Linked DNA regions of Homo sapiens: region 2 is linked to region 1. The links come from fine-mapping of genetic effects on gene expression. Tissue or cell type: whole blood. Region 1 holds a variant in brackets; the other region holds the start of a gene. All regions are shown on one strand. Distances are between the middles of the regions.

Region 1 (15,301 bases):
CAGAAGCAACACAGGGAGAAAAGCAGGCACTGCGGGAACCAGGCAAACTCATGCACCAGCCAAGGAAGGAAAATTGGACTGTAAGTACTGCCTTGGTCATGGGGCATTTTTGGAGGTCTCGGGGTGTGCAAGAAACCTCCAGTAAGGGGGGTTGAGTAGACAGGGAAAAACTCAGACGCAGAGACTGGCAGAAAATGGGAAACAGGAATTCTAGGCCTGGGAGCCAAAGGAAAGAGGGAGCCAAAGAGACTCCGTCTGACATTCCCCTGGATAGTCCTTTGGGGAGATTGTTGCAGGTTTGGTGGAACAACCCTCGAACCAGGGACAAGGAAAAGGAAAAGATGATAAAGTATTGCTGTTTTGTCTGGCCCAAAGACCCCATTCATAAGCCTTCTGTCTTTTGGCCTAAGTTTGGCTCAGATGAGGATTGTGTTCTAAGCTTTAATTCTCTCTGTGAATAATAAAACTTCATCCTCACAAGAAGAGATAGGTTACTCTCTGCTGAATCAAGGAATTAGCCCCCATGATCCCCCTCAAAAAAGAAGAAAAAGAGCCTGGTGAAGAGCCCTCACCCAGTGAAAAGCCCTGGGACCCCCTATCGTGCTTGCCCCTTCATACGTCTCACAAAAAAGGGGACAGGAAGATCAAGGGGCAGCAGGAGGGTTAGAGGAAGAAAGACCCAGAGACTACAGGGGAGCCAAGCCAACTGCTCCTTTAAATCCTTATCCAAATTTAAGAAAAGAATTACAAGAGTGTAAGAGGGATATTGAGAACTTCCCTATCCCTTCCACACAGCAGGCATCTAGCATGTTCCCTCTTAGGGAAGTTCCCATGGGACAGGGAGAGATTGGCTTTGTAAACACTCCTCTTGCAAGTACTGAAGTTAGGAATTGCAAGAAGGAAATGAAACCACTCCTAGAAGATCCCCTGGGTTTAGCAGACCAGCTGGACCAATTCCTAGGACCCAGCTTTTACACTTGGGCTGAAATGATGTCTATCATGAATATCCTGTTCACGGGAGAAGAAAGGGGAATGATTAGGAGAGTGGCCATGACCAGTGGGGAGAAGCAACACCCTCCTGGGCAGTGAGACTTGCCAGCCAAACAAAAATTTCCAAATGTTGATCCCGAATGGGATAATAATGATCCCAGGGACTGGGCCCAAATGCAGGACCTCAGGAAACTAGTAATTCAAGGGATCAAAGAGTACACTCCTAGGACACAAAATGTCTCAAAGGCATTTGAGATTCAACAAGAAAAAGAGAAAACTCCCTTCACATTCCTGCAGAGGCTCAGAGATGAGAAAATACTCCAGATTAGATCCGGAGGACCCAGTAGGGCAAGGCCTGTTGCAGATTAACTTTGTTACTAAAAGCTGGCTTGACATTACAAAAAAAAAAATTACAAAAGATTGATGGATGGAATGAGAAACCGATTGAGGAATTACTGAGTGAAGCTCAGAAGGTCTTTGTGAAAAGAGGGGAAGAGAAGCAGAAACAGAAAGGGAACATCATGATTTCCACTGTGGAAGAGGTAGCCAAAAAAAGATTAGCTCAAGATCCCCCTCAAATGAGACAAGGGAATGATAGATTTCGACACAGAGAAAGAAAGGAAATGCAGGGGAAACCTCCTAAGACTATGAGTGGCTAGATGTTACAAGTGTGGAAAGCCAGGGCATCTTAAGAGAGAATGTCCTCAATGGAAAAAAGAAGAAGAGATGATCCCCCTCATGACCGTTGATGAATACAATGGGGGTCAGGGCTTCCTTCTGAGTAGGTCCCACCAAGAACCCTTGATAAATTGGAAGGCGGGACCTTAGGGAGAAGAAGTGACATTTTTGGTTGACACTGGGGCAGCTCACTCCTCCCTAATCCACAAACCAAAGGGTACAGAACTCTCTAAGGAAAAACTGAAAGTATTAGGCGTAAAAGGGGAGGGATTACAGGTTCTGATATTCAAGACAATGTTAATTAGACTGGGACCAGAACACATTGAGGGGTCACTCTTATATATTCCTGAAGCAGGAACTAACCTAGTGGGTAGAGACCTGATTGTGAGATTCAGTTTAGGATTAGGGATACACAGAAAGGACAAATGAAAGTAAGGATGGGCCTCCTAACAGAGGAGGAGGGAAGAAAAATTAGTCCCGTTTTGTGGTTTGGGAAAGGCAAGCGGGGACACTTAAGAATCACAGCCTTACAGATTGGACTAAAACAACCAGGAGGAGTTTGCAGAAAACAATATCCCATTTCTGTTGAAGGGAGAAAAGATCTCCAACCAGTAATAGAGGGATTAATTAAAAATGGACTGTTAGAACCCTGCATGTCACCATATAATACTTTTTTTTTTGAGATGGAGTTTCACTCTTGTCATCCAGGCTGGAGTGCAATGGCATGATCTCAGCTCACTGCACCCTCCACCTCCCGGGTTCAAGCAATTCTTCTGCCTCAGCCTCCTGAGTAGCTGGGTGCGTGCCACCACACCCAGCAAATTTCTTTTTGTAGTTTTAGTAGAGATGGGCTTTCACCACATTGGCCAGGCTGGTCTGGAACTCCTGACCTCAGGTAATCCACCCGCCTCAGCCTCCCAAAGTACTGGGATTACACGCTTGAGCCTGTGCCTGGCCAATACTCTAATTCTTTGTGTTGCTTATCTGGGAGGGAGAGATTCTGTGTCTATTCCCAGCCATCTTTTTGCAGCTGCAGGCATCTCCCACCGCCCCCCCATCCCAGTCAGCTTTAGCTTCCCTATCTTAATGTGCCTAAAGGGAAAGGAATGTGCTTATTAAGGCCCACTGTTTATACTGGGCCCGACTGTGGGAGTGTGAAGTTTGGTGTTTACCCAGGAGACATCCCCCGCCTCCTTCTATGCTTAAGTTGTTTATCTGTAGTTTATAGCCTGAACTTTCAGGCTACCCTTTGTTAAAAGAGAAGTGATTTCTTTGAACCGCACGAGATTAGAAAGGAAGCTATTTCAAGAGTGTTAAGGGGAATTATGGAAGGTTTACAAATTTGATGGGATTATCCCACCCCTTGGCATCCTGTGGAAAGGTAAAAAGAATAAACCAAACTCTCAAAAAGCATCTCACCAAACTAAACTTAGAAACTAAAGTGCCTTGGACCAAATATCTCCCATGGCTTTAGGATTAGGATTCGGACAGTCCCCAGAAAAGACTTGGGATTGTCCCCTACAAGTTATTATATGGACTCCCATATTTGGGCAGGGCTACAGATCCTCCCACTATGGAAACCAAAAACCAATTCTTAAGAAATGATATACTGGCCATATCTTCCACCCTGTCATCCCTCAGGTTAAAAGGTCTTCTGACGCAAGCTCTGCCTCTTGAGTTCATGGTTCACTACTTCCAGCCTGGCAACTTGGTGCTGACTAAGATTTGGAAAGAAGACAAGCTCCACCCAAGCTGGGAAGGTCCCTGTCAAGTGCCTCTGCCCCTGAGACAGCCCTGCGAACAGCTGAATGGGGGTGGACTCACTACACTGGAATCAAGAGGCCGGTAAAAGAGACCTGGAAAGGGAAGGAGAAAGAACAGTGGGAAGTGCATGGGTCACCTGACGAACACTTAAAGTTAACTCTGAGAAAAATTTAGAAAGAAAGCGTGGGCTGGCTGCATTTCTGAAAGGTAATAAGGCTGGGATGGGTTAGTATACAAAGAGCAGAAGGTCAAAATGGAAACTGGCAGGGGACTCCCCACTGCTCAATCAGGTTGGTGATTAATATGATTAAGACGGTAGCACCCCAAACTATAAGATTTGATGCCTGTCAGGTTTTACCTTGTGGGAATTTAGAAAATCAGAGACAGCTCTCGCAGGCAGATAAATCTCTTTGCCTTGAACCAGATGCAGGTTGCAGTAGGGCATCACCCTTCCCCAGCTGGGAGGATGTATGGTGCGCTACCCAATTTCAGGGTTGGACAGTAAACATGGTGTGGGTAACTCCAAACTGGAAACCCTTGAAGCATAAACTACCTCTGTCCAAGCGCTCCCCACCAAATAACTGCCAGAATTTAGAATGCCATCCTATACTCATCACCCTTGACAATTCAGCCTTTCTAGACCAAGAACCAAAAGTAGCATCTCAGGTATATGGGTTAGGAGAAGACATCACAAGGAAAGACCCCCAGGTCGATTTGATCTCAGGCTAATCAAGAACTCAACCTCCCATTTGCCTGGAACTACTCCAACCCCAGACCCTAATAAACACTTTAGTCTACCAAATATTAACCCTAAAATGGTAACAATAATTGAGGTAAAGGATTTAAGGCAAACCTTAGAAATTGAGACAGGGTATAGGGATGTGAATGCCTGGGTCAAATGGGTCATATTTTCGGTACAAGCCCTCAGCAAAAGTAACTGCTACGCGTGTGCTGCAGGACCACCTCAGGCGCAGGTGGTTCCGTTTCCCCTGGGATGGAATAGTGATTCTAGAGGAATGTGTTGCATGTTGGCTGCATACCAGCACAATGATATAAGTAAGGAGAAGTAAGACTTGTAAGAGTCTTTCATTGCTGTTTCCTGCATTGCGGAGCTCAGATCCCAGAGCAATACCCTCGTTCTCTGCAGAGAACATGAACTACTCCTCTTGCCTCTCTAGACAGGGGGCAGAGTTCCATAAGCCTATGGGAGAACTCTCAACTTGTACCCACATCCTAAACGTCACTGGTGAGTTGAGCAATGGCAATTACTCAGCTCTCCATACACCCCGGGCTGATGTCTGGTAGTATTATGGGAAAAGGAACCTACGTAACCTGTTACTGTCCAATGGGACCAGGACTTGTGCTTTAGTCTCATTGGCCATTCCCTTCACCCTGGCATCCCATAAGATACCCCAAAATACACATGGCCACTGAAACCAGAGAGATTTCACAAATTCTTTTAATCCCAATGTGTATGTTGACTCAATAGGAGACCCTGGTGGGGGTAGGGTTGCCTAATAAATTGAAGGCCTGAAACGCAGTAGGTGCTGGGTTTAAAGTCAGGACACTTCTGCTGGTCAACTATTAAGAAGAATGCGAATTAAATTAACTCCATCTATTATAATCAACAGGAATTCATCAATTATACTTGGGATGCCCTCAAAGGGTGGCTAGCCAGTTAGATGCCACCAGCTAAATGGCCTGGGAAAACAGACTTGCGCTAGACATGATACTAGAGAAAAAGGGAGCGTGTGTGTTATGCTGGGCGGGAAATTTTGTACTTTCATTCCCAGCAATACTGCCCCAAATGGGACCATCACAAAAGCTTTACAAGGACTAACAACTCTAGCCAACGAACTGGAAGAAATGCTCGGAATTAATGACCCATTTACGGGTTGGCTAGAAGGCTGATTTGGAAAATGGAAAGGAATGGTAGCTTCAATCCTTATATCTCTCATAATTGTGGCAGGATTCTTAATAGCAGTGGAATGTTGTATTATCCCTTGTGTGAGGGGACTAGCACAGAAATTAATTAAAACAGCTATTAATAAACAAATGCCCATGACTTACCAGCAAAATAACCTGCCACTATTAGAAAGCAAATTAAACTCACTCTCCTATGAGGAAGAAAGTAAACAACTTCTGGAGCGATTCACGGCCCAAAAGGGTTTAAAAGAAAATGAGAACAAAATAAGTAAATAGAAAAGAGGAGGGAATTGGTGAGAAAACCTTTTAAATGGTCCATTTGCAAGGCATGATAAGTCTAAGCACTGGCAGCCAGCCTGCAAATGTAAGAAACCACA[T/G]GGCTCATGCACCCAGAAGGTCACAGTAAGTGGACAGAATGTAGAGGTGTGGTCAGCTCATAAAAGGGAAGAAAGTTTTGTTATGGGGAAATCAAAACTTAAGTGGGGAAGAGGACGGGGTATAACTTTGTAAGGGGGATAATGAAAGTTAGGCGATGTCCGGGAAGATTGTAACCCCACAGTACTCAACCAGTGAGGAACTGGGGGAGGGACTTGTGTGCTAGGACATAAATTACCCGTTGTGACCGCCCTGGTTGTGCCTGCTCACCAGACACCCGATCTCGCAAGACCGTTATGAAAAGTCTCCCTTTCGCTGTTCTTTGTGCCTCTAAGTCCATTCTTTGGGTTTGGATGGGTGAGTGTGTTTCTCACAAATGCACCACTGCACCCCTGCCTAGGTGACAGAGACAGACTGTGTCTCAAAAAAATGAAAATATCAGGGAACTCAATGCAAAAGACTGCGGCGCTTTAGACTTGAGAGTAACCTGCCCATGACCCTTGGGGCTCCGTGAGGAAGACAAAAGACCCCCAAAAGGAGGGTGTATGGCACCTTTTTCTGGTTTCTCAAGGGGTCTCAGGACTGCTAGAAGTTCCCTCTTGATTTCTTCGTGTGTTATTGAAGGTGGCAGAAAGGAAGAAGGGCCAACAGTAAATGGGAAAACAATTCTTAGAGGGCTCAATTTGGGAAGATTTTAAACTTCCCAAAAAGGCCAAGGATGTTTTACATTTTTCTCAGTAAAAATCATGCCGACAACAACAACAACAAAAAAGTGAACAGATGGAAGGAACATAAAATTGCTTTTTAACAAAATTTCAGTTGACTGAAAAGAATTCCCAGGGTAGGAACAGGATCCAAAGAGAAAAAGCATTGCTCTATATATCTGCCAGGGAAAAATCCCCCAAAAACTAAAAGAAAAAAGAAAAAGCAGAAGGGTGTGTTGAAAATACACAAGCAGCAAGCTTTCTGTTTCATGAGCACGTGGCCTAACACTGGAGTGGAAAGAATTTCGGCTGTGGAGCGCTCCCACCCGCTCTGCTCATGGGAGGAGCCCTGCCTCTCTTCAGCTTCCCAGCAGTGGTGGGAGACACACGTCTCTTCTGCCCACGGGAGGAAGCGAGACAAAAGAAAAAAGTTGCTATCACACTCTAAATACAAACCAGTTTTCTATCAAAGGTATACCTGAACAAATGACTCAACGCCAAGTGAAATAAGCACCAAGGAGACCAGAACCAAGAAGCCTTTCACGGCTTTCACCAAGGTCTCCAGAGAGGAGGCAAAAGTTGCAACCCTGCTCAGATCCAGACCACTCCAGGCAGCTCAAATAAAGGAGAATTTTAGTAGCTGCAAATGGGGCTACTGTCTGGCCATATTATCTAGGGTTTCAGCCTCTCAGCTGGCTGACTGCACACAAAGGCCTGACAACCCGTATCTCCCACAGACGGAAGATTGCATGGCAGTTTGTAAGATGGGAAGTCAAAAGCTGTCTGTGGGAATAGACAGGATTGCAAAGTGAAAGGGTACCCCAAAAGGTCAGAGTTATGCAAATACCAAACTAACTTTTTACAAATGTTTCTATTTGTTTTGTCCTGAGTTAAAAGATTTGCATTTCCAAGAGTCTGGTTTCCTGACTGGGAATCAAATCCAGGCTGTGGTGGTGAAAGCATGGAACCCAGGCCCTAGATTAGGGTGGCCCGTCTTCTTTGTAAATCCCAGGGGGATCCAAAACAGGCAGCTTGGGCGCACTATATATATATATATATATATATATATATATATATATATATATATATGTGACATATATATTATATATGTGACATATATATTATATATGTGATATATATATTATATATGTGACATATATATTATATGTGATATATATTATACATATATAACATATACATGTTAGAAATATATATTTTTTATATCATATATATATATTTGTTTGAGACAAAGTCTCGTTCTGTCACCCAGGCTGGCGTGCAGTGTGGTGTGCTCATGGTTTACTGCAGCCTCAACCTCCTAGGCTCAAGCAGTCCTCCTGCCTACCCCTGGCTGAGTAGCTGGGACCACAGGCGTGTGTCACGATGCCTGACTCATTTATTTGTTTATTTATTTTGTAGAGATGGGATCTCCCTATGTTGCCCAGTCTGTTCTCAAACTCCTAGGCTCAAGCAAGCCTTCCTTGACCTCCCGAAGTGTTGGGATTACAGGCATAAATCAGTGAATCCAGCTACACAAAGGATTTATAACTTAGTTGTAAATCTGATTTCTGCCTTAAAAAAAGAAATCCTGCTAAGGGAGTTTCTAAGGCTATATATTCCTTTTGTGTCTTTTCATAGGTACCAATAAGAAAGCTGTTTAAGACAAGAGCTCTTAGTGGCCGGGCGCGGTGGCTCACATCTGTAATCCCAGCACTTTGGGAGGCTGAGGCAGATGGATCACCTGAGGTCAGCAGTTCGAGGCCAGCTAGCCAAGATGGTGAAACCCTGTCTCCACTAAAAATACAAAAAAAAAAAAAAAAAAATTACCTGGGCATAGTGGTGCGCACCTGTAATCTCAGCCACTGGGGAGGCTGAGGCAGGAGAATTGCTTGAACCCGGGAGGCTGAAGTTGCAGTGAGCAGAGATTGCGCCACTGCAGTCCAGCCTGGGCGACAGAGTGAGACCTTGTCTCAAAAAAAAAAAAAAAAGAGACAAGAGCTCTCTAAAAAGTTTTCTTTTAAAATATAACTTTTTAACTTATTTATTATGTTTTTTCAAAATTTCAACTTTTATTTTAGATTCAGGGGATACATGTGTGGATTTGTTACATGGGTATATTGCATGATGCTGAGGTTTGGGGTGCAAAGCATCCTTTCACCCAGGTAGTGAGGATAGTACCCGATAGGTACTTTTTCAACTCTTGTCCCCCTCTCCCTCCACCTCTCCCCTTCTCCTCTCCCCCTCTCTCTCTCTCCCCTTCTCCTCTCCCCCTCTCTCACTCTCCCCTTCTCCTCTCCCCTCTCTCACTCTCCCCTTCTCCTCTCCCCTCTCTCACTCTCCCCTTCTCCTCTCCCCCTCTCTCTCTCTCCCCTTCTCCTCTCCCCCTCTCTCACTCTCCCCTTCTCCTCTCCCCTCTCTCACTCTCCTACTTTCCTACTCTCCCTGCTCTAGCAGGTCCCAGTGACTATTGTTTCCATCTTTATGTCCATGTGTATCCAACGTTTAGCTTCCGCTTATAAGTGAGAATGTGGCCGGGTGCGGTGGCTCACGCCTGTAATCCCAGCACTTTGGGAGGCAAAGGCAGGCGGATCACCTGAGATTGGGAGTTCAAGACCAGCCTGACCAACATGGAGAAACCTTGTCTCTACTAAAAATACAAAACTAGCCAGGCGTAGTGGCGCATGCCTGTAGTCCCAGCTAGTTGGGAGGCTGAGGCAGGAGAATCACTTGAACCTGGGAGGCCGAGGTTGCAGTGAGCCGAGATCACACCATTGTACTCCAGCCTGGGTAACAAGAGTGAAACTCCGTCTCAAAAAAAAGAAAAAAAATGTGAGAACATGCAGTATTTGATTTTCTGTTTCTGCGTTAGTTCACTTAAGATAATGGCCTCCAGCTGCATCCACATTGCTGCAAAGAACACAGTTTTGTTGCTTTTTATGGCTGTGTCGTATTCCGTAGTGTATACGTACCACATTTTATCCAATCCACTGTTGATGGGCACCTAGGTTGATTCCAGCCAATTTATTTATTCCATAAGTGACTCAAACCAATAATCATTTTTTTATGGAAAGTTCTGGAGGTAGCTTTCCAGGTTTAGAAGAGCATAGGTGTTTGTGGTGTATTTAAAATGAATGGGCCGGGTGCGGTGGCTCACGCCTGTAATCCCAGCAATTTGGGAGGCCGAAGCAGGCGGATCACAAGGTCAGGAGATCGAGACCATATTGGCTAACATGGTGAAACCCCATCTCTACTAAAAGTACAAAAAATCAGCTGGGCATGGTGGCAGGCGCCTGTAGTCCCAGCTACTCGGGAGGCTGAGGCAGGAGAATGGCGTGAACCCAGGAGGCGGAGTTTACAGTGAGCCGAGATCATGCCACTGCACTCCAGCCTGGGAGACAGAGCGAGACTCTATCTCAAAAAATAAAATAAAATAAATAAAATAAAATGAGTGCAGAAGATGCACCCCCTCCTATGATCCTTCCCAAAAAACACATTCTCAGAAATAGGCTAAGATAGCCGGGCCTGGTGGCTCACACCTGTATCCTAGCACTTTGGGAGGCTGAGGCAGGTAGGTCACCTGAGGTCAGGAGTTCAAGACCAGCCTGGCCAACATGGTGAAACCCCATCTCTACTGAAAATAACAAAAAATTAGCCAGATGTGGTGGCGCATGCCTGTAATCCCAGCTACTTAGGAGATTGAGGCAGGAGAATCACTTGAACCTGGGAGGCAGAGGTTGCAGTGAGCCGAGATCATGCCACTGCACTCCAGCCTGGTGACAGAGCGAGACTCTGTCTCAAAAAAGAAATAGGCTAAGCTAGCAAGAGGCTTGCTGCCATAGACAGCTAAGGATGGTGTTTACTCATGGGGTGCCTTAAGTATCCCACAAATTTGTGAGAGGCTGCCAGCCACAGACCTGTTAATCTGTGATAACTCCTGTGATTGGACTTTCCCAGGACTAACAGGGACAAACAAGCATTGCCATGACAAAAGTCCCTTATGTATGGGACTTAATACAAATGACCTTGAGTGCTCGGCACATTCAGAGCAGAGTGTGCTGCTTAGTATCTTACTTGTCAGGGGGTTCCCAGTCTTTTTAGACTGGTGATGTGGTTTGGCTGTGCCCCCACCCAAATCTCCACTTGAATTGTATCCCCCAGATTTCCCACGTATTGTGGGAGGGACCCAGGGGGAGGTAATTGAATCATAGGGGGCTGGTCTTTCCCATGCTATTCTCATGATAGTGAATAAGTCTCATGGGATCTGATGGGTTTATCAGGGGTTTCTGCTTCTGTTTCTTCCTCATTTTCTCTTGCCGCCGCCATGGAAGACATGCCTTTCGCCCTCCGCCATGATTCTGAGGCCTCCCCAACCATGCGGAACTGTAAGTCCTATTAAATCTCTTTTTCTTCTCAGTCTCGGGTATGTCTTTGTAAGCAGCATGAAAACAGACTAATATAGTAAATTGGTACCAGTAGAGGGGGGCATTGCTGAAAAGATGCCTGAAAATGTGGAAGCAACTTTGGAACTGGGTAACAGGCAGAGGTTGGAGGGCTCAGAAGAAGCAGGAAAATGTGGGAAAGTTTGGAACTACCTAGAGACTTGTTGAATGGCTTTGACGAAAGTACTGATAGTGATATGAACAATAAGGTCTAGGCTGATGTGGTCTCAGATGGAGATGAGGAACTTGTTGGGAACTGGCTGTTGCCCAGACTGGAGTGCAGTGGTGCCATCTCGGCTCACTGCAACCTCCGCCTCCTAAGTTCAAGCAATTCTCCTGCCTCTGCCTCCCGAGTACCTGGGATTACAGGTGTGCGCCACCATTCCCCGCTAATTTTTCTATTTTTAGTAGAGACTGTGTTTTGCCATGTTAGCCAGGCTGTTTTCAAACTCCTGACCTCAGGTGATCCACCCACGTTGGCCTCCCAAAGTGCAGGGATTACAGGCGTGAGCCACCGAGTCTGGCTGACTCTTGTTATGTTTTAGCAAAGAGAATGAAGGCACTTTGCCCCTGCCCTAGAGATTTGTGGAACTTTGAACTTGAGAGAGATGGTTTAGGGTATCTGATGGAAAAAATTTCTAAGCAGCAAAGCATTCCAGAGGTGACTTGGGTGCTGCTAAAAGCCTTCAGTTTTAAAAGGGAAACAGAGCATGAAAGTTTGGAAAATTCGTGGCCTGACAATGTAAGAGAAAAGAAAAACCCATTTTCTGGGGAGAAATTCAAGCTGGCTACAGAAATTTGCAAGTAAGTAGCAAGGAGCCTAATGTTAATCCCCAAGACCATGGGGAAAATGTCTCCAGGCCATGTCAGAGACCTTTATGGCAGCCCCTCCCATCACAGGCCTGGAGGCCCAGAGGAAAAAGTGGTTTTGTGGGCTAGGCCCAGTGTCTCCAGGCTGTGTGCAGCCTGGGGACTTGGTGCCCTGTGTCCCAGCTGAAAGAGACCAATGTACAGCTCAGGCTGTGGCTTCAGAGGGTAGAAGAGGGTGGAAGCCCCAAGCTTTGGCAGCTTCCATGTGGTGTTGAGCCTGTGGGTGCACAGAAGTCAAGAATTGAGGTTTGAGAACCTCTGCCTAGATTTCAAAGGGCATATGGAAATGCCTGGATGCCCAGGCAGAAGTTTGCTGCAGGGGTGGGGCCCCGATGGAGAACCTATGCTAGGGCAATGCAGAAGGGAAATGTGGGGTGGGAGCCCCCACACAGAGTCCCTACTGGGGCACCACCTAGTGAAGCTGTGAGAAAAGGGCTACCATCCTCCAGACCTCAGAATGCTAGATCCACCAACACCTTCCACCATGCACCTGGAAAAGCTGCAGACACTCAACACCATCCTATGAAAGCAGCCGGGAGGGAGGCTGTATCCTGCAAAGCCACAGAGGCAGAGCTGCCCAAGACCATGGGAACCCACCACTTGCAGTAGTGTGACCTGGATGTGAGACCTGGAGTCAAAGGAGATCATTTTGGGAGCTTTAAAATTTGACTGCCTTGCTGGATTTCAGACTTGAATGGGCCCTGTAACCCCTTTGTTTTGGCCAATTTCCCCCATTTGGAACGGCTGTATTCACCCAATACCAGTACCCCCATTGTATCTAGGAAGTAACCAGTTGACTTTTGATTTTACAGGCTCATAGGTGGAAGGGACTTTCCTTTTCTCAGATGAGGCTTTGGACTATGGACTTTTGGGTTAATGCTGAAATGAGTTAAGACTTTGGGGGACTGTTGGGAAGGCATGATTGGTTTTGAAATGTGAGGACATGAGATTTGGAGCCACCAGGGGTGGAATGATATGGTTTTGCCATGCCTCTACCCAAATCTTAACTTGAATTGTACCTCTCAGATTTCCCACATGTTGTGGGAGGGACCCAAGGGGAAGTAATTGAATCACGGGGGCTGGTCTTTTCAATGCTATTCTCGTGATAGTGAATAAGTCTCACAAGATCTGATGGATTTATCAGGGGTTTCTACTTTTGCTTCTTCCTCATTTTCTCTTGCTGCTGCCATGTAAGAAGTGGCTTTTGCCCTTTGCCATGATTCTGAGGCTTCCCCAGCCCATGTGGAACTGTAAGTCCAATTAAACCTCTTTTTCTTCCCAGTCTTGGGTATGTCTTTGTAAGCAGAGTGAAAATGGACTAATACAACTGACCAACACACATGACCCAAAAGTCCCAAAAGTCATGCCACTCCCCCAACCACTCCCCGGGTTGGTAGAGACCAAGCAAGAGTGCTCCCCACTTGGTCACAAGTCAGGCTCTTGAGAGCCTGACATAAAAGATATTAAGCAAGATGAGAGGGAATCTTTATGACAGCAAGACAGAGACACAGGAAAAAAAAGAATGTTTCTGAAAGGAAAAAGATCAGACAACATGAAATAGTCATACCAAAAATAAACCAGCGTTTGTGTGTCTAAAATTAGCCTGTATAAATGCTTTTCTTGGCTGGGTGCAGTGGCTCACCCTGTAATTCCAGTACTTTGGGAGGCCAAGGCAGGAGGATTCCTTGAGTCCAGATGTCAGATATATTTGAACAAGAGGGACTCCATCTTGAAGATGGGCTGGGTAAAAAAAAGCTGAGAACTGCTGGGCTCCCAGGAGCTTAGGCATTCTTAGTCACAGGATGAGTTAGGAGGTCAGCACAAGATACAGGTCACAACAACCCCACTGATAAAGCAGGATGTGGTAAAGAAGCCGGCCAAAACCCACCAGAACCAGGATGCTGATGAAAGTGACCTCTGGTAATCCTCACTGCTCATTATGTGATACTTATTATAAGGCATTAGCGTGTTAAAAGACACTCCCACCAGCACCACCACAGTTTACAAATACCATGGCAACATCCAGAAGTTACCCTATATGGTCTGAAAGTGGGGAGGAACCCTCAGTTCCTGGAAATCCAGTCCTCTTTCCCGGAAAACTCATGAATAATTCACCCCTTGTTTAGCATACAATCAAGAAATAACTGTAGGTATACTCGGTTGAGCAGCTCACACCACGGCTGTACCTATGCAGTAGCCATTCTTTTGTTTCTTTTACTTCCCTAATAAACTTGCTTTTACTTTACTCTATGGACTCGCCCTGTATTCTTTCTTGTGGGAGGTCCAGTAACCCTCTCTTGGGGTCTAGATTGGGACCCCTTTCCAGTAACACAGGAGTTTGAGGCCAGCCTCAACAACTGAGACTCCATCTCTACAAAAAAATCAAAAAGTTAGCAGGGAATGGTGGAGTGCACCTATGGTCCCAGCTACACAGGAAGCTGAGGCAGGAGGATCCCTCGAGTCCAGGAGGTTAAGTCTGCAGTGAGCCATGACTGTCCCGCTGCACTCCAGCCTGGGCAACAGAGCTGATTCTAAATAAATAAATAAATTCTTTCTTTCCATTTATCTTAAATTTGGAAAAGGAAAAGGAAACAGTTTTACTGTCTGCTTGATTGGATTGCACAGACAGATGCTGTTTGAAATGTTTCTTCCTTGGTGCGGTAAAGAAATAGCACTTGAACATGAATTTAATTTATTTAGTAAGGCCATTTTTACTTCTTGCAGAAAGGGTACACTCATCAGCAGTTTTGCCATGAGAGTGCATTGAACAAAGGAGACAGGGTCATTTATAACCTGACGCGTCCTCCCTACTGCTGTGTCTGGTTTCCACTGGCTGGAGCGGGACCTCACATTCTGTATTTGTCTCGATTGGCTAGCAACTTAGAACTTTTTAAAAGAGGCAAAGGTAGAGGGGAACAAAGGAAAGAGGAAGTAACTGGTGGAATGCTGAGAAAGGTAAAAACACCTTCAAATAAGGAAGAGGAACAGGCTGTGACCTAATGCTTACTTGGACCAGTATAAGCATGCCAGGGCAGATATTTAGGCTAAATTGTGGGAGCTAAGAACATAAAGAACATTGATTTCTTTATTACGGCTAGCAGATATTTAAGAATGTTAGCACAGGTCTTTGAATAAATTTTGCTTCTAATAGAAGTTACTATTTATTCCTAATTAGATGGGGAGGAAAGTCTTTGAAGAGGAACCTCTACTTTACTTTTTACAGATGCCAAGAATCTAACTACTCCCAAATTCTTCCCCTTCTGCTGGCCTGTCAGGCCCCAGGTTCCTTGGACTCCTGGCTTCAGAAGAGCTAAACAGTTTTGGTGATCCTGCTCACAGCGCCAAATCTGTAGGGGCCAAGAGAAAGCTGCTTCACTCTCTGAAGTTTTGCTGCAAAATCAACTGACAATAGGCAGATTAACAGGGAGATAAGCATACAAAATTTTATTTTAACTCACATAGCATGGGTAATTGTAGGAGAATGATTACTGTGCCACTGGCTTTTTTTTTTTTTTTTTAAGACGGAGTCTCCCTTTGTCGCCAGGCTAGAGTGCA
Region 2 (15,301 bases), 29 kb before region 1:
GATGTCTCCCAGAGGGGGTGTTTTATTTTTTAGAGGTGGGTTCTCGCTATGTTGCCCAGGCTGGTCTCAAACTCCTGGCCTCAAGCAATCCTCCTGCTTCAGCCCCCTGAGTAGCTGGAACTATAGGCATGAGCCACCATGCCTGGCTAGGAGGTGGTGTTTTAGTTCTGCTTCCTCACACCTGCCACCTTCTGGGATATGTAGCTATCCCAGATATTCATATATATATGAATGGAGATGCCCCCTAACTGGGTAACCTGGCTAACTCCTTCCCATCCCTAGCCCTCCCTTCTCCAAGTTTAAAATCATGTTGGCCGGGCACAGTGGCTCACGCCTGTAATCCCAACACTTTGGGAGGCTGAGACATATGTATATATATATATACACACGCATATATATATATACACACACACACACATATATACACACACACACACATATATACACACACATATATATACACACACATATATATACATACATATATATATATACACACATATATATATATATATATGAATATGTAGTCCCACCCTACTTTTGGCCCCGATAAATGAATACATGGACCCTTTCAAGAATCACTTCGGAGAGTTGCAGACCCTACACAAAATCTAGCTTTTGGGGAAGATCTTCAAGATGAGGAACTATACAGCTCTGATAGGTAGTGCATTCCAATGATGAACTGTCCCAATAGTTAAGGTTTTCCTGATTGCTAACTCTCATCATACCTACTTTGCCTATTGATTATTGCTCATGGAAATGGGAGAGCTGGCCCTGTTTTCCTAAAGCCCATCTGTGGTTGCTGGCTTATCTCAGAACTTTATCAAGAAGCAACTGCACAGGCTACTGTAGTTCCTGAAACTTCTTCCTCTCCACCTGCATGCCTTCCCAGACCCCACTACAAGGCCTCTCACAGCCCCCCACTTCCTGCATAACCCAAGCTACTTGCACGTGCATTATGTGGGCGACTGGCTGCTTCCCTTATACCTGTTGTTACAGGCTAAGTTATGGCCCTCTCAAATTCCTATGTTGAAGCCCTAACCCTTAGGTACCTCAGAATGCGACTGAGTATTTGGAGATAGGGTCTTTAAAGAGGTCATTAAGATAAAATCAGGTCATATGGGTGGGCCCTAATCCAATAGGACTGGTGTACTTATAAGAAGAGGAGATTAAGACACAGACACACACAAAGGAAAGACCACATAAAGAGACCCAGAGAGAGAAGGTGTCTGTTACACCTGCTCTGCAAACTTCTCTTAGTGTAAACATCTTCCTCTTCCTTTCCCTGAAAGAAAACCGCCCGTCATCAAGAGTCCTGGCACAAAGCTTGTTGTCAGCTTTCAGGGCCGGATATTCATGGGTTTTTACGGGTCCCAAAGAGAGCCAGTGGCATAAGAGACTTCCCCTCCTAGCTCCTTTTTTTTTGTTTTGTTTTGAGATGGAGTTTTACTGTTTTTACCCAGGCTGGAATGCAATGGCGTGATCTCAGCTCACTGCAATCTCCGCCTCCCAGGTTCAAGTGATTCTCCTGCCTCAGCCTCCCGAAAAGCTGGAATTATAGGCACCCACCACCACACACAACTAATTTTGTATTTTTAGTAGCGATGGGGTTTCACCATCTTGGCCAGGCTGGTCTCGAACTCCTGACCTCAGGTGATCCGCCCGCCTTGGCCTCCCAAAGTGCTGGGATTACAGGCGTGAGCCACCGCGCCCAACCCCTAGCTCCTTCTAAATGTCTATCTGCAAACTTCTCTTAGTGTTAACATTAGGCATGTCTACAAGCCAAGGAGAGAGGCTTCAGAAGAACCCAAGGCTGCTGATACATTGACTTCAGACTTCCAGCCTCCTGAACTGTGAGAGAATACATTTCTGTTACATAAGGCATCCAGTCTGTGGTACTTTGTTATGGCAGCCAACAACACACCAAACTTGATTTATAAGCAAGAAAAGGCTGAAGAGTTTATGTGATTTGTACAGAAGTCAATATAGTTTTTCCACACACAGAAATTTAATAGGCATTTTGGTTTTATTACTGAAAAGCTTATCATAATGCCAAACACAACTTCTGCAAGTCATAAGAAAGTCTCCCCTGGCCCCCCAGACACTCTCTTTCCATTGTACCTATAGAGCACTATGGCAAGTCCACCCAGAGTCATAAGAAAGCCCCCCTGGCCCCCCAGACACTCTCTTTCCACTGTACATATAAAGCACCGTGGCAAGTCCACCCAGAGGAACCCACGGGCCAGACTTCCTTCAACCCAAGGGCGCTGGTTTCCCATGATATGTACTTAAAGTTTTGGGCACCTCAGGCCTTGTGTTCAACCTTTTGTAGGTTGTATCTCATTTAATTGTCCAAAAACCCCAAAAAAGGTAATTACTATCTCTGCTGGACAGAGGAAGAAACTGAGGCTTTCAGAGTTTAGAAACATGCCTCAGGTCATAACCAGAAGATTCAAATCTAAGTTTATCTGATGAAAAAACTACTTTCCTGTAGCTACCATGTACTTCATATACATACTCAAACTATGTGTAGCTGATGTTCTGGCCCCACACACTAGACACCACCCTGTGTCCTCCTAAGTATTTCTACATCTCTTCGCAGCATCACAATACTCCTGTAAACAGGAGTTGTTTAGCCAAGGAAACAGAGGTTCCAAGAGACAAGAAATGGCCATGCTCCAGTCATGCAGCAGGCCCCAGCTGTACACTGGCAGTCCCCAGCTGTCATCAAACTGACAAATCCTGCAGAGATGCACCCTCGAAGAGATGAGAGGGCACCACCTCAGTGACACCCACCTACAGAAGCGTTAGCTCTGAGAGGCTCTAGAACCATGAAGAGGACAAACATCCTGATGAGGTTCTCATTTAATTGCTCTAGGAAGGGACTCAGACCCTGACAACAGCTCACAGCACCTCGGGGACACGAGAACACTGCTGATGTAAAAGCCATCAGCTTAACAAAAACCACACCCAGTGCACAGTATGGGGTGTGCACTTCCCCAGATCACCCCTGCTACACTCCCCTGGGCTGCATACCTGGGTCCCCGCTGAGCTGGCTTGGTGGTCTGCTTGGGAGCCCCAGGCACTGTGCCAGGGTTATGGGCTGGGCATCCTGGTTCTTTGCAAGGTCGCTGTGGGGCTCTACCGGCAGCTGCTCCTGCTCCTGGTCCAGAGGGCTGTCCCCATCATCAATCACCACAGGGTCTTCACAGTGCTTGAGCTGCAATCCCAGAGACAGCTTTTCAGGGCTAGGGGAAGAGGTCCCATCTCTCCCTGGGCCTGGTGACCATCCACTCCACAGCTGACCATCAAAGGCTCAACTTAGGCCTTGGACTGGGCTGTAAAGGGGCACGACACTATCATGCCCAAATTAGAGCCTTCAGGGAGTAAAACTGGCTTTCTTAGGAAACTCTAGTCTGGACCTAACCAAAGTAAATGGCTCTCGATGGAACTCCTCATTCCCCAGCCAGCACATGCATGGCCCAGCCAAAGTGTCTAAGTACCAGATCTCTACCCGTCCCAGCCCCACCTCTTCTACTCACCCACTGCCAGGGTCTCCCGGGCTCCCGTTCCAGTGCCTCCACCGCGGCCACAGCCTGCTCTCCGCTCTCAGGCTCCTGCGCCCGCACCCAGCTCTGGATCTCCCGGGGCAGGATGGCCAGGAACTGCTCCAGCACCAGCAGCTCCAGAATCTGCTCCTTGGTGTGCCTCTCAGGCCGCAGCCAGCCCCCGCACAGGTCCCAGAGGCGCTGCAGGGCCTCCCGGGGGCCCGCCGCCTCCTGGTAGCGGAAACGGCGGAAGAGACGCCGAGAGGACTCGGGGCTGGGAAGCTCCCCCTGGGGGCTAGGGTTCTCTCCAGGTGGGCTCCTCATTTTCCTGGGCTCCTCACTTTCCTTCGGAGCCAAGACTCGGGGGCACAGGGCTGTGGGCATGATGGGATTTGATGGGGGTCAGCAGCAGAAGACGACCCTATTTCCAAACAGAAATCACTGGCTTCAGTGTTCTGGTCTCCTGTGGTCATTTCTGGGGGACAGTGACAAGGAAACTGTCAATGCCCTCAGAGACCAGCCCTTTGGAGAAGCCCTGGGAAAGGTAGGGAGTGTTGGTGTGGCTGGTCTTTACACACAGGATGAAACAGACAGAAAGATGCCCTCCCCCCATCAGTACCATTACGTGTGGATTCCCGTTAAGTGGGTGACTGGATGAACAAGACAGGAAATCTGGGAGAAAGTGGTGGCATTTCAACGTGACACTGCTGTTTTGAGCATCCCAGGAAACCAACAGCGCCACATGCAGATGTAATCAAGACGCTCTGGTACCTTGGGTGGCTGGGTCCTCCTGGAGAGATCCGAGATGGGCAGGCCAAGCAGGCCACTATCTTGAAGCTCCGGAGCCGAAGTCACTGTTCTTGTTATTAAGACCTTTACAAATGGAGCTGGAATGACAAAGACATGCATCGGATGAGCCTTCAAGCACATCCAGGAATGGAAAATCCACCCTTCTGGTGGCAGAGGGCTGATGGTGCTGCGTGCTGGATGGACAACCCAGCCAGAATCAGCTTTGCCCAGCAGAGTCTGCAATGGGAGGCAAGGGAAAACATCACATGAGACAGCTACATGCAGTCTACCAGGGACAAATAACACTGCATCTAGAAGTATCAGTGGTTTCCTATGAGCCTTCTGCCAATTCTGCCCTGACCTTCAACCTCGCCTCCACCCTATTCTCTATCCTTGCCCTCTTCAAACCACATTGAAGGCAACTGCACACTCGCCAAAGCCCTTCCTCGGCCAGGACAGAAAAGTGGGTCCGTCACTGCACAGCTCAGCCCTCAAAGAACCCCTGGACACTGCAGCTGCCACACCCCCAAGGTGGGACTCAGGGGTCCCTACACCTCCCCGCTGGTGTGCAGACAACTAGCCGACACTTTTGCCACAACTAGGGTGGCAAGAGACCAGCAACCAGTATACCTGGTGTTTATGATTCCCACTTTAGAACGCTGGGCCCGTGAAAGGGCACATGGGGACACTCACAGTCCCCTTCTCTGCCATCAGGCCTCTGTGATCCTTAGGACCGGCAGTGCCTGCCACTCCCCCATCTGCACGAGGTTGTCCAGCGTGGCCGCGTCTTAACCTCCAACAGCTCACAAGGTGGGAAGGGGGACTCGGGCCTCACTCCCATTTCACAGAAAGACAAGTGATGCCAGAAAAGCTACGGAACAACTGAGTGGTTCCAGAAACACCCACTGCTCTGAATCTCTTTGCTTTCCAAAGTAACAACATACACAGAAACCCATATGGGGGCCGTGGCGGCGTCGGGCTGGACGCATTACAGCGCTCCCCACCACCGGATCGCTTCCAGGGCGGCTCCGGCATCTGGAGCCCGGGGTGGGCCCCGCCCGCCCTGCTCGGCGGCCCCCTGCGGCGCCCATCACACACCTGCAGCGCCCAGGACTACTCAGGCCCGCCCCCCCGAGCACCGGCGCCCACCCGGGCTGCCACTCGGATCGTCTCCAACCAGACGGCCGCGTCCGTCTTTGTCACGGCGGCACCTGGCGCGTCGGAGGCTCGGAGGAGATGCCTGATGAATGAACTAACGTGAGTGAGGCGGAGGAGGGCCCCGCAGGGGCGGAGCGAGCTCCCAGCCTTTCGCGGAGGAGGGACCGAGCTGGATCGGCAGAAAGGGAAGGAGAAGGTCGCTGTGGGCCAGGGAAGGGGGAGCCCGCCCTCCGCGCCCTCGGTCTCCCTCACACGCGCGTCTCCCGTCTCGCCGGCTCCGGGCTCCTCACCTCACAGCCTGGAGCTCCCTCCCGGCGTCCGGCCGAAAACCCTCCTGTGGCGGCGGAAGTCCAGGGCAGCCGTCCTCATCCTCCCAGCCCGCCCGGCCGGGCGTACTCGCTGAGGCGGGGTCTCCGCAGGCGCCCGGCTCCTTTCCCGGCCCGTCCAGACCGCGTCTCCCGATCATCCGGAAAGCCACGGCTCGGCTCGGGGGCAAATGGAGGCGCCTGAAAAACAATGGTGTTGCTTTCTCCCCCGCCCGCACCTTCCTGAGCGCTGGGCTCTGGGCTGGGAGGCGGCGCCGCGGAGGCCGGGCGCGGGCCGAGGAGGGCGGGGCGGGGCCGGCCGCGGGAGCCGGGGTGCACTCACCGCCGCGGCGCGTCCCTGTTGGCGGGCGGCGCAGGCCTGGCCGCCGCGGGAGCCCGCCGGACGCCGAGGAAAGGAAAGGCCGGAGCCCTCCGGCTCCCTCCCCTGGGACACTTCCTGCTCCGCTCTAGGACTGGGGAGGTCTCCGCATCTCAGTGGTTCGCTCCCCCGCCCCCCGGCCGAGGTGTGCGCTGGGGGTGACATCCGACACCCCCGGCCCGCCCCGCTCCGCGCGCGCCTGGGCCTGGCCGCCGGGCCGGGGGCTTTGTGGGTCAGCCACGTCGCCGCGCCCGGGCTTCCCCGCGGGCCCGCCGGTCCGGAAGGTCGGCCCGGGGCTCTTTTCTCCGCTGTTCTCCTTCTCTGGCGCCCCCAGGACACGCGGCCAGTGGACGCCCGGAACGGCCGACCGGGAGTCGCGGCTGGGGATGGAAGCTGGAATTGGGGGTGCGGGATGGAGCGGAGAGAGGAGGCCCCGCGCGCCGTCGGCCGCCTCATTTCAGACTCCCCTGCGACCCCCCCCCCGCCGCCAGCCGAAGCCCGGGCCGCCCAGCCCCTCCTGCCGCTGCGGGACGCCGAAGGTAGCGCTCACATCCGCGCCTTCCGGGCCTGGCGCCCACGTGCGGAGTCCCCGGGTTAGGAAAGGCCGCGCATCCGGAGGCCACGCAGAGCCTCGGGGCTTGCGCAGAGGGGCTGCGGTGAGTCCTGACCCTGAGTGGGGGTCACGGGGCTCGTTGCTCGCTGAAGTGAACACGGTTGCAGCTGTGCACAGTGGCGGAGGGAGAGGATGAGGGACTCTGACCCAAGGTTATGTGGCAGTGAGGGGCAAGCAGAAATGGGGGCCTCCGGACCCCACCCCGAGACAGGGCTGCTGGCCGCTGCACTATGCTGAATATAGCCCAAATTCTTACATGGGTCGTCCCCGGGGAATGCTCATTTTTCAGGCTCCAGAGCTTGAGAGAAAGTGCGAACCCGGTCCCTGAGCAGGTCTGATTCCCATGGCCCCTTCGCCATCTGCTCTGCACCGAAATTGGATTCTCCTACGCAGAGGAGAAGGTGGAGAAGATTCTCCGTCTTCCGGAGGGTAGCTACTGCCGGTAGCTCCGATTTCCTTCGGATCCCCTTTCAAGGGCAAGCAGAAGGAAATCAGTTTCTCCAAAGAAAGTGGCCCGGCTGAGTAAGTGGGAACAAGGTGGTTGGACTGAGGCACGGGATCCTTTAGCTCCGTTGCTCTTCTAATCCCGTGGCCCTGGGCACCGCCACTTCCTCCTCTGAACTGCTGGAATAATCACTTCTGACTAGCAGAGTTACTGGGAGCCGCTGTTTGTCAGTGTTCACATTCTGACTTTAGCAGGAGATGGAGCGAGCGAAGGAGTGAAGCCCTTGTTTGTGAACAGTGATTGTTTCCCGGATGACAGCCAGATGCCGGGCAGGGCCACGCAGATCTTAGCTGGAGCCTACAGGTACAAGTGAGAGCCACCCCCTTTGACGTAACTGGACTGGCATTTACAGAACTCATGTACAGCCCACTCTCAGGAACACCAGCCAGGAACCGTGACATGGAGGAGAGGAATTGGGAGGAACCGAGGGGTCATCAAAGGCTGGTAGGGCTTAGGTGCTCTAGCAAACATCCTAGTCTGTGGGGTTCCAGAGCTCTGGTGCTACAGCTCCCAACCCTTTGATTGGCCCAGGAACTGGCTGTTGAGTGGGCATCCGTGTTCATAGCTCTGCCCCTTGCAACCCTAAAGCAGATAAAATGCAGGAGGCAGAAATTGCTGGCAGACAGCATCCAATTAATCCCCACTACCCAATTCAGTTTCTTCCCCTGACCTGACACGTCCCTGCCCAGCTGTGCCTCCCACTGTTCACCTTTTGAGGCACAAAACGGGCTGTTTATGCTGCTGCTGCATTTAGCTCAAAACAGGGCTTCAGAGTCAAGGTTCTGGACTCAGGCACCCGGATTAAATCCTGCCCTATGAATTCCTAGCCAGGTGACCTCAGGCCTACATAACCTTTCTGTACCTCAACTTCCTCATCCAGAAAACAGGGATGATGCTGTCTACCTCATTGGATGGTTGTGCAGGATCAAAGATTCAGTCATTCAGCAAACCTATACCGAGTACCTACTGTACACTCATGAGTGCTAGGCAGCCAGCCTTCCAGGTGCTCAGGTACATCTGTGAACACAACTGGCTATTGGAGGAAGCAAAATCAGTAACATGACCTGCTCTCTTTGATCTGTGCTACAGAAAAAAAGGAAAGTGGAGAGGCATCAGGAAGTCAGGAGTGCTGGGGAGGGGCTGGTAACAGTCATGGTATTAAAGAGGAGGGCAGGCAGGCCTTACTGTGAAGGTGGTATTTGAGATGAAGTAGTTGGTCAGAGTCCCTGTTTGACACATGGAGACCACCTTGACAGCAAAGGCCCTAAGGGGGAGCGGTGCGAAGCAAGGTGGGCTGGTGAGTGAGAGGAGAGGGATGGCATAGAGCTGGGTGGGGGCACAGGAGCCCGTGGGGAAGGTGTTCGCCTCTGAATGAAGTGGGGTTGTATCAGATACCACGGGTGAAGCATCGGGAAGAGGATCCTGCCTGTAAACCCTGCTCAAGGACTGCACCATCATCATGCCCAGTGTGTGCGTGTATTAGGTTTGTATGAATATAATGTTGCCAATTGTATCTGTTTTTATGAAATGTTTGCTATGTGCCAATGATTATTCGATCCATGGGGAGACCATAGAAGAATGATCCAAGGAGTTGGGAGGGGAATCAAATAATAAATCAGCGATTCTGCAATATAACGCCATTGGTGATCGGTGTCATGAAAGAAATACAACATGGTGGGGAAGAGTGTGCTGGGGATGTTCAGGTAGGGCCTCTGTCAGGAGGTGACATTTGAGTGGAGAGCAGGTGGGGGGCTCCTGAGCAGAGGTGTGTGGGAAGAGTATTCCAGCAGAGGAAACAGCGTGTGCTTGCTCAGCTGGGCAGAGGAATAGTGAGAGAATGGTGAGGCTGGAACCAGGTCACCAGATGTTATAGTCATTAGAGGGTTTCAAGTAGGAGTGTGGCCTAACGGAATCTTGATTTTATCAAGATCACTGTGCAGAACAGATGAAGCAGAGTCTCTGTTAGGAATCGTTGTAGAGATCCCGGCAGGAGATGCTCGGTTCCTGGAGTTGACTGGTGGAGGCACAGCTGGTGAACAGTAGGCCCAATCCAGGCTCTGTGTTGAAGGCATGCTGCCTGTGTTAGAGGAGTGAGGAACGGCTGTGACTGGGGCTGAAACTGGGTGACTGAACAGGCCTTCTAGAGATGGCAGATGCAAGGAAGCAGGTTTCCAGGAAGGGGTTGGGTTTGGGGTTGAATTGGTGGATTTGGGACTTGCTGGTTTTCAGATGCCCAGGAGACAAGTGGGGATGACCCTCTGGGATAGAAAGCTGTGGCTGGAGGTGGAAATCTGGAGTCACCGTATGTAGCAGGAGCTGGGGCTTGAGAGGGTTGAGTGTGTTTTGAGAAGCAGCCCCAGGGAGGGCAGACCCTGCGAAATGCCAGCCCTGGACCGTGGGAGCCCAAGGGGTTAGTGGAGGAGAAGGGAGAGAAGGGGAAGTAGGAGGAGGAAAGTGAGGGAGGACGAGGGCAAGAGAAGGGGGTAGGGAGAGCTGCTGCCGCCTTGAGATAAAAGGAAAATTGCAGGTGTGGAGCCCTGGAATCCAAGTGAGCACCTGTGTTTCAAGGAGAGAAAGAGGTCAGGGGGATAAATCCTGCGCCAAGATCAAATCCGATGAGGAAAGAACACTGCCCATTGAATCTGGTAGAGAGGCCCCTGAGCAAAGCAGACAGTGGAGCTCCTGGGCTAGGGCACTTTCTGGAAGAGAAGGGAGATGAGAGTGGACACAGCCCTGTGGAGAAAAACGGTCTCATCTTAAAGATGGGAGAAATTGCAGTGCATCGCCTGGAGGAGGGAGGGCTGGCACCCAGGGCCCACGGGGAGCCGGAGGGCAGGGAAGGCTGCCTCTGGACCTGAGGCATGTCCACAGCATCTGGGCAGGGAGAGCCTGGGGCAGGCTTCTTCCAACTTTGCCAACACTCCAGTAAAATAAGGAGCAAGTGTGACGTTTTATTTTATGAGGCAACTTGGCTAGCTGTGGTACTCAGTTTTTGTTCAAACACCAGTCTGGTGTTTCTGTGAGGCTGTTTTTTAGATATGATTAATAGTTAAATCTGTAGACTTTGAATGCAGCGGGTTACCCTCCATAGCGTGGGCGGGCTTCATCCAATCTGTCGAAGGCCGTAAGAGCAAAGACTGCAGTCTCCTGAGGAAGGAACTCCCCCTGCGGCGCGCCTTCCGACTTGCTGCAGCTTCGGCTTTCTGGATCTGCAGCCTGCCCTGCAGATTTTAGACTTGCAAGCCAATCAGTTCCTTAAAAGAAAACAGTCTCCCTCATCTCTCTCTATTGATCTCTAGCTCTCTATCCCCACCCCCTTCCCTCCCCCCACTCCACATGCTATTTGTTCCGTTTCTCTGGAGAACCCTGACTGCTACACAGGGCCCTTAAGTGACAGGGAGAAAGAGAGGGTGAAATGTGAGAGCAGGAGGAAGAGGGCGTGAGACGGCCATCTTGCAGAGTGGAAAGGTGAATGGACGATAACAAAGGAAAGGGTGAATTATATATAACCTGGAAAGTGAAGTGTGCACAAGGAAATGTGATGTGTAACCTAAAGCCCCAGTGCTTTGCAGGTGGGCAGCCGTTCCACTGTGACATCGCCCCCCAGGTGGGCAGCCGTTCCACTGTGACATCACCCCCTGCAGAGGAGGTCATCATTCCGCATAATATGCTTGTAGACTGATGACAAATACAGGTGTGCAAATATGTGAAGCCCCATCACTGGACCAACCACACCTGCCTTCTCTGGGAGCTGTCAGTACCCACAGGCCCCAACCACAGCTTGCGCGGCTAACCAGGCACCAGGGACTTGCATGCTTTTTGCAATGTGAGAAGCTCTGTTGTAAGCTGGGCATAGTAGATACTCAATAAACTGTGGCTTTAGGAACAGTCCTAGGAATAGTAGTGCTAGTTCTTACTGTGTTAGTCACAGACATCTAGGGGGCATGGACAGCAAGGCATTAATCTGGTCCCTTATTGTGGCCTGTGGAAAGGGGTCAGTGAGAAGCTGCTCAGTGAAACAGCTTTGCATGATGACATTTTCTCACTATAGAGGCCTCCCAGCTGTCACAGAGGCCTGTTCATCTATTTTATTTTTTCTTTTTTTGAAAGCAAAAACACTTTGAGATTTGCAGGTAGGCTGACATAACCCACTCTCAGGGGCTCCAGTGAAAGTACCTCTTTTAAGTGGCCAAGTTGTCACTAAAGAGATGACATCTTTTTCCTGGAAATCAGCGTTGGATGCTACAGTCAAGAAAATAAAGACCCCAAACATTGGTATTTGGAGCTATTCTTGAGCATTGGGTTGTTCATGTTTATTCAGCTGGACCATCAGGGACAAGCTTGTGCCTTGACAAATTCAGATTTGCAGAAATGACCAGATTTATCGTCTTGATTCAGTGAGCGGGGGAGGGCACCCAGAGGAGGCTGGAATATGGCTTGATAATGGGAGAAGTATTTTTGCGAGGTTTGCTCCGGATGGAGGAGGAGAAGGAGGAAGAGGGGGAGGGGAGGAGGAGGATGATGTCAGGTGTGATGTAAGTGTGGGAGTAAGTCTCCCTTGTGGGATCTTTAAGAATCACTCCCAAGTGGCTGCAGCAATTACAGTCCAAGAATGATATGAAAGTACAGGATTTATGCTGCTCCAAGGTCCTGGAGAGGGAGGCACCGCATGCGTGCAGGGCCGTGTTGGATGAGAGCCAAGGGCCCAGGCTCTGCAGTGCAGGTGGGGGGTCGAGAAAGAGAGAGAACCCGTGGGCAAGTACCTGTGTCGGGGGGTCAGGGTGGGGCACACAAGCAGAAGGTATGAGGGGATTTTACTGGTGCATTGGAATGTCGCTGGGTCACAGTCGGGGGAAGGCAAGAAGGGGACCTGGAGGCAGAGACCAGGCTTATCACACCAGTGTGCCTAGTTGCTTGGGGGACTCACAGCCTGTGTGTGATACTGAGGCCTCATGGAAGTATGAAGTTTTAATAATTGATAATGTATCAGGGAAGTGGGAGTCGCATCTGCACTGGTTGTTGTTTAGAGGGGGGCTCAGAAGAAGTAGGGGTTCACTGAGGGTGATGGGCCGTCAGGAGGCAAGGATGCCTTGGTTGTTGCGTTCCCCCAGTCATAAATGAGTGCAGCAAGTGGGTCTAGGGCGTTCTTGGTTAGAAAGCAGGAGTCCATCTGTCAAGCGGGCGTTGTGGCGTTTCGAAGCTTTGGCAAGACCTTGGGGAAAACCACGTGTCCTGTGAATGCACAGTGGGTTACTCGTCTGTCTTCTTAGCCTGATGAAAGGCAGGGCTGCCTGTTCTCTTTTCTCAGTCCTTACAGATCTTGTAGATTTTCTCACATTCGCTCCTGGAGAGGTTTTTTTTTGTTTTTGTTGCTGTTGTTGTTGTTGTTTTGAGAGAGTCTCGCTCTGTCCCCAGGCTGGAGTGCGGTGGCGCCATCTCGGCTCACTGCAACCTCTGCCTCCTGGGTTCAAGCGATTCTTCTGCCTCAGCCTCCTGAGTAGCTGGGATTACAGGTGCCCACCACAACGCCTGATTAATTTTTGTATTTTTAGTAGAGACGAGGTATCACCATGTTGGTCAGGCTGGTCTTGAACTCCTGACCTCGTGATCCACCTGCCTTGGCCTCCCAAAGTGCTGGGATTACAGGCGTGAGCCACCGCGCCCAGCCTGGAGAGGTTTTGATGCTCTTAGGAGGGAAACGCCTTGATGTTACAGTTCCGCAGATGTTTCCATGAATGTGAGTTTGATCCTTTGTGATCGTCTTTGTTGTCTGCTCCTTAAATGCATTGAATCCTAGCATCCTTGGAATTTCAGGAGGGAAACTGATGTTCAGAGAAAGAGGATAGTGGTCAGGGACCCAGTGTTACAGGGGTATGTGTGTGTGTCTGAATGAGGGAGGGATGGGGAAGTAGACTTTGTACGGAATATGTTCAGCATTTGCTAGGTATATTATCTGCATTGTATTGCCTAATTCTCACCACCATCCCGGGAAGTTGGAGCCCTGAGTAGTGTTTGGACTCTGCCTTCCAGAAAAGAAGGGTTTGCTGCAGGCCTCAAATGGGGTGATTGGTTCTTGGGTGAGTAAATACCAGAGTAAACTCCTCTGGTATTGTAGGACAGTGTTTTGGTCGATCTAGTAAAGGGGGAAAACATCCTTACTCACAGTTCTGGAATTTTATGTCCAGCTATTCCTTGTATGCCATGTCACTTAGGAAAATTTAAAAAGTATCTGGCTGGGTGTGGTGGCTCACACATGCCTATAATCCCAGCACTTTGAGAGACCAAGGCAGGAGGATCACTTGAGTCCAGAAGTTTGAGACCAGCCTAGGCAACATAGCAAGAACCCATCTCCACAAAAAATTTAAAAATTAGCTGGGCAAGGTGGCACATACTTGTAGTTCCAGCTACCTGGGAGGCTGAAGCAGGAAGATCACTTGAGCCGAGGAGGTGAGCTATGATTGTGCCACTGCACTCCAGCCTGGGCAACAGAGTGAAACCCTGTCTCAAACAAAACAAGTAAATATCAATTCTGTTCAGCTTCCTGCCACCTTACTCTTTCCATAGCATTTTCTGAAATTCAAGTCACCTCTGACAACTCCACATTTTTCTCCTCACATCTAGTATTTGCCAATTGATAAAAAGTCTGGGAGCCTCAATGTGTCTTAGATTTATTTTTTTCTGTGCAATCCCACTTAGAAACCCTAACCTATATCTTGATTTCACCTCATAGCATAGCACAGACCTCATCCTGGATCCCACACCCTGATGTGTGTCCTGATTCCAGCTCAGAGCACAGACCTTATCCTGGATCCCAGACCCTGTTATGTGTCCTGATTCCAGCTCAGCACATACCTCACCCCGGATCCCACACCCTGATGTGTGTCCTGATTCCATCTCATAGCAGAGACCTCATCCTGGATCCCAGACTCTGTTGTGTGTCCTGATTTCACCTTATAGCACAGGCCTCATCCTGGATCCCACACCCTGATGTGTGTCCTGATTCTAGCTCAGAGCATAGACCTCATCCTGGATCCCACACCCTGTTATGTGTCCTGATTCCAGCTCAGAGCACAGGCCTCATCCTGGATCCCAGACCCTGTTGTGTGTCCTGATTTTACCTTATAGCACAGACCTCATCCTGGATCCCACACCCTGATATGTGTCCTGATTCCAGCCCAGAGTACAGACCTCATCCTGGATCTCACACCCTGATATGTGTCCTGATTCCAGCTCAGAGCACAGACTTCTTCCTGACCTCAGCATCTCTCTCCAGCCTGCTCACTAAGGTGCAGTTTAAGCCATGCTGTCCCTACCCTGGGTATTTTCCCTCTGTCAGACCCACATACAGGGCAATTCTATTTCTGCCCCCTTGCTATCTGTGTTGCTTAAGTGGTGGGAGATGATGGGTTAATTTTTCCATTCATAAACTGTTGATACACCTGGCCCAAATGGATAGAACAAAATCTGGCACTTAAATACCCAGCGCAGAGTTAGAGATACTTAGCAGGTGCTTGCTCATCACAATCCTTCTTCCTCCTCTATTAGCTGCATATAAACTTTTAAACTTTATAGTGTATGACATTTCTCATTTTAGTGTATCTTAATCTGCCCTTCTGCCATTGAACACTGTAATAATTAATTTTCGGTGTCAACTTGACTGGGCTAAGGGATGACCAGATAGCTGGTAAAAGAGTAACTCCAGGTGTGTCTGTGAGGGTGTTTCCCAAAGAGACTGGCATTTGAATCAGACTGAGTAATGAAGATTTGCCCTCACTGATGTGGGCTGGCATTATCCAATCTGTTGAATGCCCAGAGAGAGTGAAAAGGCAGATGAAGGAGGAATTCTTTTTTCTTCTTGAGCTAGAGCACCCACCTTCTCCTGGTCTTAGACACTGGGGCTCCAGGTTCTTGCAGCTTCATACTCTGACAGTGGCCCCCCAGTTTCTTAGGCCTTCAGCCTCGGACCGAGAGTTACACCAATAGCTTCCCTGCTTCTCCAGCCTG

The links. PIP is the estimated chance that this variant, and not a neighbour inherited with it, causes the effect.
Region 2: ZNF496 starts here. The variant in region 1 is fine-mapped to the expression of ZNF496 in whole blood (TOPMed, PIP above 0.99).

Annotation. Positions count from the first base shown.
Region 1 is chr1:247,354,465-247,369,765 of GRCh38, forward strand. All of the region lies in intron 1 of ZNF496-DT (ZNF496 divergent transcript), which reads left to right. Among named protein-coding and RNA genes, the nearest start is that of ZNF496-DT, 30 kb to the left of the region's middle. RefSeq lists enhancers at 3,266-3,565, 8,170-8,714. The variant T/G (reference allele first, on the strand shown) is at 5,736.
Region 2 is chr1:247,325,647-247,340,947 of GRCh38, forward strand. ZNF496 (zinc finger protein 496) reads right to left here and starts at 6,221. Exons shown (of 10, transcript NM_032752.3): 1 at 6,144-6,221; 2 at 5,786-6,001; 3 at 4,320-4,435; 4 at 3,543-3,969; 5 at 3,037-3,220. The coding sequence starts at 3,932. ZNF496-DT (ZNF496 divergent transcript) reads left to right here and starts at 6,408. Exons shown (of 3, transcript NR_168399.1): 1 at 6,408-7,600. LOC124904574 (a long non-coding RNA gene) reads right to left here and starts at 11,090. Exons shown (of 2, transcript XR_007067004.1): 1 at 10,808-11,090; 2 at 10,229-10,518. RefSeq lists enhancers at 3,212-3,714, 6,101-6,395, 10,167-10,667 and silencers at 5,259-5,498, 6,069-6,178, 6,309-6,788, 7,901-8,195, 11,821-12,115.